Regions from separate parts of the Homo sapiens genome. Here region 1 is linked to region 2. The links come from fine-mapping of genetic effects on gene expression. A gene starts in region 2. The other region holds a variant in brackets. All regions are shown on one strand. Distances are between the middles of the regions.

Region 1 (5,365 bases), 31 kb after region 2:
TTTTTTTCTTTTTTTTTTTATGAGAGGGAGTCTCGCTCTGTCTCCAAGGCTGGAATGCAGTGGCATGATCTTGGCTCACTGCAAGCTCCGCCTCCCGGGTTCACGCCACTCTCCTGCCTCAGCCTCCCGAGTAGCTGGACTACAGGCGCCCACCACCATGCCTGGCTAATTTTTTGTATTTTTAGTAGAGACGGGATTTCACCATGTTAGCCAGGATGGTCTTCATCTCCTGACCTCGTGATCTGCCCGCCTTGGCCTCCCAAGGATATTTTCATTCAATACAAATTTCTTTTTTTGAGATGGAGTCTTTTTCTGTCGCCCAGGCTGGAATGTGGTGGCGTGATCTCGGCTCAGTGCAACCTCCGCCTCCTGGGTTCCAGCAGTTCTCCTGCCTCAGCCTCCCAAGTAGCTGGGATTACAGGTGTGCACCACAATACCTGGCTAATTTTTGTTTTTGTTTTTTGAGACAGAGTTTCGCTCTTGTTGCCCAGGCTGGAGTGTGATGGCATGATCTTGGCTCATTGCAGCCTCTGCCTCCTGTGTTCAAGCAATTCTCCTGCCTCAGCCTCCCGGGTTCAAGCAATTCTGCCTCAGCCTTCCGAGTAGCTGGGATTACAGGCATACGCCACCAAGTCCGGCTAAGTTTGTCTTTTTAATAGAGATGGAGTTTCACCATGTTGGTCAGGCTGGTCTCGAACTCCTGACCTCAGGTGATCCACCCGCCTTGGCCTCCCAAAGTGCTGGGGTTACAGGCGTGAGCCACTGCACCTGGCCTCAAAACAGATTTCTGAGTTGACAGTTCATTTTTGTTCCCCACCATGCATCAATTTTTTTTTTTTTTTGAGACGGAGTCTTTCTGTTGCCCAGGCTGGAATGCAGTGGCGCGATCTCGGCTCACTGCAAGCTCTGCCTCCCAGGTTCATGCCATTTCCCTGCCTCAGCCTCCCGAGTAGCTGGGACTACAGGCACCCGCCACCATGCCCGGCTAATGTTTTTTGTGTTTTTAGTAGAGATGGGGTTTCACTGTGTTAGTGAGGATGGTCTCGATCTCCTGACCTCATGATCCGCCTGCCTCGGCCTCCCAATGTGCCGGGATTACAAGAGTGAGCCACCACACCTGGCCCTTTTTCTTTTTTTTTTTTGAGACGAAGTCTCATTGTGTCGCCCAAGCTGGAGTGCAGCGGCACAATCTTGCCTCACTGCAACCTCCGCCTCCCGGGTTCAAGTGATTCTGTTGCCTCAGCCTCCCGAGTAGCTGGGACTACAGGCTCGCACCACCATGCCCAGCTGATTTTTGTATTTTTAGTAGAGACGAGGTTTCACTATGTTGGCCAGTCTGGTCTCGAATTCCTGATCTCAGGTGATCCGCCCGCCTCAGCCTCCCAAAGTGCTGGGATTACAGGTATGATCCACCCTCACCCAGTCCATTTTAAAATTATTATTATTATTATTTTTGCCTAGGTTGGAGTGCACTGGCAAAGTCACAGCTCACTGCAGCCTTGACTTCCCGGGCTCAAACGATCCTCCCACGTGAGCTTCCTAGCTAATTTCTTAATTTTTTGGTAGAGATGGGGTTTCACCATGTTGTCTAGGCTGGTCTTGATTTCCTCAAGTGATCCTCCCCACTCTGTCTCCTGGATGCTGGGATTCCAGGCGGGAGCCGCGGTGCCTGGTCCTGTTGAGCATTTGAAGCTGTCGTTCCACCGTCTTCTTGGTCTTCTCGTCTTCGTTGACCTCTGGCTTTCAGTAGGGTGACTCTGGTGTGCCTTGCAGTGGTGTTCTTTGTATCTTAACTTGAGAGAGTTTGCTGAACTTCCTGGAGTTGCTATTTGATGTTTTTCATTAAATTTTGGGGTTTTCCCCACTCTTAAGTATTTTTCTGTTCTATTTTCATTCTTTTCTTTTTTTTTTTTCTTGAGATGGAGTCTCGCTCTGTTGCCCAGGCTGGAGTGCAGTGGCGCGATCTTGGCTGACTGCAACCTCCGCCTCCGGGGTTCAAGCGGTTTTCCTGGCTCAGCCTCCCGAGTAACTGAGATTACAGGCACGTGCCAGCTCACCTGGCTAATTTTTTTTTTTTTTTTTTGAGATGAAGTCTCACTCTGTCGCTTGGGCTGGAGTGCAGTGGCGCAATCTCTGCCCACTGCAACCTCCACCTCCCAGGTTCAAGCGATTCTCCTGTTTCAGCCTCCTGAGTAGCTGGGATTACAGGGGTGCACCACCACACCTGTCTAATTTTTGTATTTTTAGTAGAGATGGGATTTCACCATGTTGGCCAGGCTGGTCTCAAACTCCTGACTTCAGGTGATCTGCCCAACT[C/T]GGCCTCCCAAAGTGTTGGGATTACAGGCTTGAACCTCCGCGCCCAACCCTCATTTTTTTCTAGTGAGGAGCATTTGATCCTGTACCATGGGTTCCTAAGGCTGTTTTTTTTTTCCCCAAATCTCTGCCTTCAGATTATATAGCTGTTATTTTTATTGATTCATTTATGTTTTTCTTTTTAGAGTTGGTTGGATTCTCACTCTGTCGCTCAGGCTGGAGTGCAGTGGTGTGATCATATCTCATTGTAGCCTTAAACTTCTGGGCTCAAGCAGTGCTTCCACCTCAGCCTTCCGAGTTGCTGGGACCACAAGCTATTCACCTATGTTTAGGTTGACTCTTCTGCTCTCTCCCTTCTGCTGATAAGCCCGTTCAGTGAATTTTTTATTTCTGTTCTTGTGTTTTTCAGTTCTAGAATTTCCATTTGATTGTTCTTTTATGATTTGTTTCTTTACCGAGATTCACATTCCTTTTATTTGGGTACATCTACTCTGATGACCCCTCGGTGTAGAGCTCTTGCTCTGGCCCCTTGCCTGGGCTCAGACACAGATGCGCCCACCTGCCTGCTGGACGGCTTCACTGCAGTGTGTCTGGTTGTCACCTCCGATCTCAGTGTCAAATGGAAGTCCTGATTTTCCCTCTAGTCTTCTTCCTTTTTTAGCCTTTCCTTTCATGGTCCCTGCACAGGTGTTACCTCCACATAGTTTCTCAATCTAGAATTCTCAGCTTTACTCTGACCTCCTTCCTTTCTCTCATTCCATTCCTGCCCCTGGTCCTGCTCGTCAGCTGGGCCTGGTGATGACCACTGCTGGAAAGTGTGCTCTTGCCTTCATCCCCACCATCCTGTCCCATCTCATCCCCTGTCTCAGCCCATCTCTCTTGTCTCTAATTGGCACTCTAGCTTCCTCTTCAGTGTGGTGTTGAGCAACAGGGATTTTGTGGATGATGATTCCCCCTGCCTTTCGTCTGTGTGGCTTCCCACGGCCCTGTCTGCCTCGCCAGCCTCATCTCTTTCCATCTTCCTTATTGTTTATTGGCCTCTGGCCTCCGTGTTTCCAACACCCTTCCTGCCTCCTGGTCTTTGTGCTTGCTCCTACTCCCTGTGGCCTTTTCTCCCAGCTCGCGTGTGGCGGGCTTACCCACCGCTGGGTGGGCCCTGCTCAGCTGAAGCTCTTCAGAGAGACTTCTAGCCTCCCATCTGAGGTTTCTTTTCCTTTTCTGTCGTAGTGCTTATTTCGACCTTTGTTGACTTTGTCTCCCCCATTTGTTGGTAAACTGCTTGACAGCAGGAACCTTGTCTTTTTTTTGTTTTTCTTTTTTTGAGGTGGAGTCTTGTTCCGTTGCCCAGGCTAGAGTGTAATGGCGTGATCTCATCTCACTGCAGCTCCGCCTCCCAGGTCGAAGTGATTCTCCTGTCTCAGCCCACCGACTAGCTGGGACTGTAGGCGTGCACCACCATGCCTGGCTAATTTTTGTCTTTGTTTTTGTTTTTGTTTTTTTGAGACGGAGTTTCACTCTTGTCGCCCAGGCTGGAGTGCAATGGCGCCATCTTGGCTCACTGCAACCTCTGCCTTCTGGTTTCAAGCAATTCTCTTGCCGCAGCCTCCTGAGTAGCTGGGATAACAAGTGTCCGCCACCACGCCTAGCTAATTTTTGTATTTTAGTAGAAATGGGGTTTCATCAAGGTGGCCAGGCTGGCCTCGATCTCCTGACCTCGTGATCCGCCCACCTCGGCCTCCCAGAGTGCTGGGATTACAGGCGTGAGTCACCACACCTGGCCTAATTTTTGTATTTTTAGGAGAGATGGGGTTTCACCATGTTGGTCAGGCTGGTCTTGAACTCCTGACTTGAAGTGATCCACCCGCCTTGGCCTCCCGAAGTGCTGGGATTGCAGACATGAGCCACCACGCCCGGCCAGAAACCTTGTCTTTTCTAGTTCATTTTTGTGATCTGAACACCCAGAATGGAGCTGAGCACATAGAACTGCTTAATATTTGTTGAAGGAATGAGTGAATATTCCCAGCATCTAGCAAAGTGCCCTGCACAGTGGACGTTTTATGATTTAGTCGCACCATTCTGTGTTAGGTTTCAGAATTGGAATTGAGTTTTGTTTTTTTTTTTGAGACGGAGTCTCGCTCTGTCGTCCTGGCTGGAGTGCAGTGGCGCGATCTCGGCTCACTGCAAGCTCCGCCTCCCGGGTTCACGCCACTCTCCTGCCTCAGCCTCCCGAGTAGCTGGGACTGCAGGCGCCCACCACCACGCCCGGCTAATTTTTTGTATTTTTAGTAGAGACGGGGTTTCACCGTGTTAGCCAGGATGGTCTCGATCTCCTGACCTCATGATCCGCCTGCCTCGGCCTCCCAAAATGCTGGGATTACAGGCGTCAGCCACCGCGCCCGGCCGGGTTTTTTATTTTTTTGAGACAGAGTTTTGCTTTTTTTTTTTTTTTTTTTTGAAACAAAGTCTTGCTCTGTCACCCAGGCTGGAGTGCAGTGGCATGATCTCGACTCACTGCAGCCTCTACCTCCCAGGCCCAAGCAGTTCTGCCTCAGCCTCCCGGGTAGCTGGGATTACAGGTGTGCGCCACCATGCCTGGCTAATTTTTGTATTTTTAGTAGAGACGGTTTCACTATGTTGACCAGGCTGGTGTCGAACTCCTGGCCTCGTGATCCACCTGCTTTGGCCTCCCATAGTGCTGAGATTACAGGTGTGAGCCTCCACACCCGGCCAGAGTTTTGCTCTTGTTGCCCAAGCTGGAGTGGAATAGCACGATCTCGGCTCCCTGCAACCTCTGCCTCCCAGCTTCAAGTGATTCTCCTGCTTCAGCCTCACGGGTAGCTGGGATTACAGGCATGTGCCACCATGCCTGGCTAATTTTGTAGTTTTAGTAGAAACGGGGATTCACCATGTTGGTCAGGCTGGTCTCGAACTCCTAACCTCAGGTGATACTCCCACCTCATCCTCCCAAAGTGCTGGGATTACAGGCATGAGCCACCACGCCTGGCCTGGAATTGGGTTTTTACAATTGAATTCAAAAATGGAAATTGAACTT
Region 2 (5,365 bases):
CAGCCTAGGTGACAGAGCCAGATCCTGTCTCTCAAAAAAAAAAAAAAAAAAAAAAGATATGGATTGCAATCTTGTTTCCTCTGGGGCTGAGTGAGGGATTGAGCCATGTGGGACAAGAGGTTTTTGACTTGTTCCATTTATTGCAGCATAACTTGAATCCAGCCGTCCTTTCTGGACTAGTGATTTTTGCCAGTCTCATGGCTAGAGTTTTACAATCAAGGCTATAGGGTCTTTGTTTAGGTCTATTTGGAGCTTTATGTATTTTCATGTGATTGTCTTTGTATATTGTCTGTGATACATGATACCAAAAAAGGAGTACTCATACATTTTATTTTATTTTACTATTTATATTTTTATTATTATTTTTTGAGACAGAGTCTCACTGTTGCCCAGGCTGGAGTGCAGTGGTGCAATCTCAGCTCACTGCAACCTCCACCTCCTGGGTTCAAGCGATTCTCCTGCCTCAGCCTCCTGAGTAACTGGGACTACAGGTGCATGCCACCACGCCCAGCTAATTTTTGTATTTTTAGTAGAGACAGGGTTTCACCATGTTGGCCAGGCTGGTCTTGAACTCCTGATCTCAAGTAATCCACCTGCCTCGGCCTCCCAAAGTGCTGAGATTACAGGCGTGAGCCACCATGCCCGTCCAGGTTTTATTTTTAATTTTTCAAAATTTTCATATTTCTTCAGAGATAGGGTCTCTCTCTGTCCCCCAGGCTGGAGTGGTTTGACCATGGCTCACTGCAGCCTCGAGCTCCTAGGCTCAAGGGATCCTCCTGCCTCAGCCTCCCAAGTAGCTGGGTCTATAGAAGTGAGCCACTGTGGCCAGGCACGGTGGCTCACACCTGTAATCCCAGCACTTCGGGAGGCCAAAGTGGGCAGATCACGAGGTCAGGAGATTGAGACCATCCTGGCTAACATGGTGAAACCCTGTCTCTACTAAAAATATTAAAAATTAGCTGGGCGTGGTGGTGGGAGCCTGTAATCCCAGCTACTCAGGAGGCCGAGGCAGGAGAATCACTTGAACTCAGGAGGCAGAGGTTGCAGTGAGCCGAGATCAGGCCACTGCACTCCAGCCTGGGCAACAGAGCGAGACTCAGTCTCAAAAATGAAATAATAAAATAAGAAGTGAGCCACTGCACCTAGCTAATTTTTTCTATTTTTTGTAGAGATGGGGGGGTCTCACTATGTTGTCCAGGCTGGTCTTGAACTCCTGGCCTCAAGTGATCCTCCTGCCTCAGCCTCCCAAAGCGCTGTTTGAGAGCCACTGCTCCCGGCCGAGTTATGGGTTTTTATTTATTTATTTATTTATTTATTTATTCATTTGAAACAGAATCTCGCTCTGTCGCCCAGGCTCTAGTGCGGTGGCGCGATCTCGGCTCACTGCAAGCTCCGCCTCCCGGGTTCACGCCATTCTCCTGCCTCAGCCTCCCAAGTAGCTGGGATTACAGGTACATGCCACCACGCCCGGCTAATTTTTTTGTATTTTTAGTAGAGTCGGGGTTTCACCATGTTAGCAAGGATGGTCTCGATCTCCTGACCTTGTGATCCACCTGCCTCAGCCTCCCAAAGTGCTGGGATTACAGGCATGAGCCACCACACCAGGCCTGAGTTATGGGTTTTTAAAGGTGCAGAGGCAGAGGTCACAGGCAAGTCATAAATCAGTACATGGAGGTTGTACACTGGTTTTGCCATAAATAGCAAGGAGATCTTGAAGCCAGGGACCACGGGTCATAGGTGGATTCAAAGGTTTTCTGATTTGGTGCAGAAGCGAATCTTTGTCTAAAACTTTGGGATCCGCAGGAAAGAATGTTAGCTCTGGGTTGTGGGCATGGCCTCCTCCAGGCCCCTCAGGATGGGCATAGCCTCCTCCAGGCCCCTCAGGAAGAAATTTAGGTAAGAGAAGGGTGGTCAGAGGCCAGTCCTCAGCTCCCGCTCATGTGAGGTCTGTGTGCCAGCACGCCCCTTTGGTGGGAGTCCCTGTTTCTGGAAAACAACTGAGGAGCACCTGCTAAGATGGCATGGTTTGCTTCTGTGGAGACTCTCGGGACTCTGGCTTCCATCTGTTGTTCTAAGCTCCTGTGACCTTCTTGTGACCTTCCTGTGGATCGGCTGCTCATTTCCTTCTCTGGGCTGGCTGGGGGCCTGGCTTGCCCTTGAAGGAACTCAACATTGTCCTTGCTTCTGTGCTTGGGAAGACCCACAGGCCCCTAAGGGCGGGGGGGGGTCCTTGTTTGGTTTCAGGAGCAGCAGGTGCAAAGGCCCTGGGGTGGGAGGGGTGAGATGTGAGGCCACAGCAGCGGGTGAGGGCCAGGCTGCAGAGGGTTTTGGGGACCATGAAGGTGGGCCCTTCAGAGATCAGGCAGGGTCAGGAAAGGCAGTAGGGAGGCCCAAGACAGCAGACACTGTGGTTGCTTCCATCTGGAAGATGGGCAGCTGCAGGAGCCTGGCTGTTCAGGGTCACACTTCTCTCCCTGTCCCGGCCCCATCTGCTGGGTGTCCTTCCTTGGAGCCCTTGACAGCACCTGAGCCCCTCCTCTCCATCCCCTGAACCTTGGTGGTTGTGCCCCCCCTCGGGGCCCAACAATCTCATTAGGGTGGCACTGAGACGCCTAATCAGCTCATGAAGCAGCGAGATAAAGGCCGGGGCTGGCACCCTGCGGAGGGAGGCCCAGCACTCACAGCACAGCCCCCTGAGACCCGCCCTGCACTTGGTGAGTAGTGGCCAACCCCGCTGTCTTTCCTGGCAGCCACTTCCCCCAGTGAGTCAGTGGGGGTCTGCTCATCACCCAAGGGGCAGAGGGAGCTGACAGGCTTTTACCACCGTGGCTGAGGTCTGGGTCTGCAGATGCCTACCCGCCACCCTGTTATTCAGAGGGGACTCCCAGCCAACCTCCTCCTCTGCTCCCCCATGGTAACCAGTGCTTCCACCATCCCCAGGCCAGTGATGGTCTGGGAACCTCAGGCCACGTGGGCTCAGCTGACCTGAGTGGACGCCAGTCACAGGCTGGGTCGGGCCAGGGCAGCGCAGGCAGCGGTTTCCACATGGATGGCATCTGATGGTTGGAGCTCCATCAGGGCCCAGAGCTGCCCAGGACAGCCCATGTCCCAGGGCTGGAGAAGCAGCTGGACGGGGCCTGTGCTATCTAGGATATGAGGATTGGGTGCCATGGGATCTGAGCAGCTGGGACCACCGGGCTCCTGAGTGCTGGTTTTGCACAGGCTGGTGCTGGTCCCAGTCCCGGGGACAGAGGCTGAACCTTAGTGAGGGAAGGTGCCATGGCAGGGTCCACCCCAATCCCAGGTGCCCAGCACCCCTTGCAGAGCCCGCGTCCCCAAAATGGGCCACCTGCCCTTGCTTTCTGATCACTCTCACGCCTGAAGCTCGGCAAACAGCTGGTAGTAGCCCAGGGCTGGAGTCAGGAATCCCAGCCAAAAAGACCAGGGGCAGGAAAGGGGACCCCAAGAGGTGGTCCCTGGGGCATCCAGTGCGGGCAAGCAGCCCCTCCTGTCTGTGTCATGTGCCTCCTTCCAGAACTTTCCGGCAGCATGTGCAGCTGACAGCAGCTCGATGGGAGATTAGGAATTCCCCTCTGCTGTTAATAGGCTTAGGGGAAGCTGAACTGCCCTTGGCCCAGGTCACTGGGGCTTAGGGCATCTGGGGAGAGGCTGTAGGGAGAGGAGGAGGAGAGGCCACCCTGTGCAGCAGTGCAGGGACACTGATCTCGTCCAGAGCGGCCGAGGCCCTTCAGCCACGCCACGCCACGCCAGGCGGGTGACCCTGCTCCCCGAGCTGACTCCAGACACAGAGAGGGCCTGGTGATTCCCCCAGCAGGGGGAACACATGCCCGGCACCCTCCGTCCCCAAGCCCCAGCTTGTCCCTCTATGAAGTGGGGTTGGGGAACGCAGGGCTTCACAGCTCAGCACCAAGTCTCTGAGACAGGCCCCTTTCCCAGGGGCGCCGTGCCTGGGGACCCTGCCCCCCATTTTGTGGGTCATTCTCCATCAGCACTGCGGGGTGCCCGTCATGGTGCTGAGGGGCTCAGGGATGCCTCCGTGAGTGGGTGAAGGGAACTGACAGCACCCCAACTGCAAAGCACAGACAAGAGGCAGAAAGCAATAAACCCATCAATAAGAATCAGAGGGGTTGGCCGGGCGCAGTGGCTCACGCCTGTAATCCCAGCACTTTGGGAGGCCAAGGTGGGTGGATCACGAGGTCAGGAGATCGAGACCATCCTGGCTAACATGGTGAAACTCCATCTCTACTAAAAAATACAAAAAAAAAAATAAATTAGCCGGGCGTGGTGTCGGGCGCCTGTAGTCCCAGCTACTGGGGAGGCTGAGGCAGGAGAATGACGTGAACCCAGGAGGTGGAGCTTGCAGTGAGCTGAGATCGTGCCACTGCACTCTAGCCTGGGCAACAGAGCGAGACTCCGTCTAAAAAAAAAAAAAAGGTGAGATTCCAGCCACAGCTCTGGAATAGGATCCTAGGGGGCTACTTTGGCAGGTATTAAAACTTTTTTAGGCCGGGCGCGGTGGCTCACGCCTGTAATCCCTGCACTTTGGGAGGCCGAGGCGGGTGGATCACAAGGTCAGGAGTTTGAGACCAGCCTGACCAAGATGGTGAAACCCCATCTGTACTAAAAACACAAAGAAAAATTAGCTGGGTGTGGTGGCGCATGCCTGTAATCTGAGCTACTCCGGAGGCTGAGGCAGGAGAATTACTTGAACCCGGGAGGCAGAAGTTGCAGTGAGCCAAGATCTCGCCACTGCACTCCAACCTGGGTGACAGAGCAAGACTCTGTCTCAAAAAAAAAAAAAAAAAAGAATCAGAGGGCAACAGCCCGGGAGACGCCCACCAGCCTGGAATCAGGGCTAACTCGACGCGTGATGAGAAGCGGCAAATCAGAACCTAAGGACACAGTGGCTGCAGGGCGGGGGTTCAGGGGAGACCTCCCTGAGCGGGAACTTGAGATGGAGGCAGCCCACTAACCATCAGGAAGGGCAGCTCAGAGGCAGGCTCCTCTGCTGGGCCTGGCAGGCCCATTCCCAGCAGGAGCCACAGAGGACTTTCATCAGAGTAGCAGCTGGGCCGGGTGCGGTGGCTCACGCCTGTAATACCAGCACTTTGGGAGGCTGAGGCGGGTGGATCATGAGGTCAGGAGTTCGAGACAACCTCGTCAACATGGTGAAACCCCGTCTCTACTAAAAATGCAAAAATGCAAAGATTAGCCGGGCATGGTGGCAGACGCCGGTAATCCCAGCTGCTGGGGAGGCTGAGGCAGGAGAATCACTTGAACCCGGGAGGCGGAGGTTGCAGTGAGCCGAGATAGTGCCACTGCACTCCAGCCCAGGCAACAAGAG

Evidence for each region.
Region 1: its variant is fine-mapped to the expression of PDE6G in whole blood (INTERVAL, PIP above 0.99).

The regions. Positions count from the first base shown.
Region 1 is chr17:81,622,867-81,628,231 of GRCh38, reverse strand. All of the region lies in intron 2 of NPLOC4 (NPL4 homolog, ubiquitin recognition factor), which reads left to right. Among named protein-coding and RNA genes, the nearest start is that of NPLOC4, 12 kb to the left of the region's middle. The variant C/T (reference allele first, on the strand shown) is at 2,317.
Region 2 is chr17:81,653,842-81,659,206 of GRCh38, reverse strand. It overlaps PDE6G (phosphodiesterase 6G), which reads left to right and starts at 2,665. Exons shown (of 4, transcript NM_002602.4): 1 at 2,665-2,714.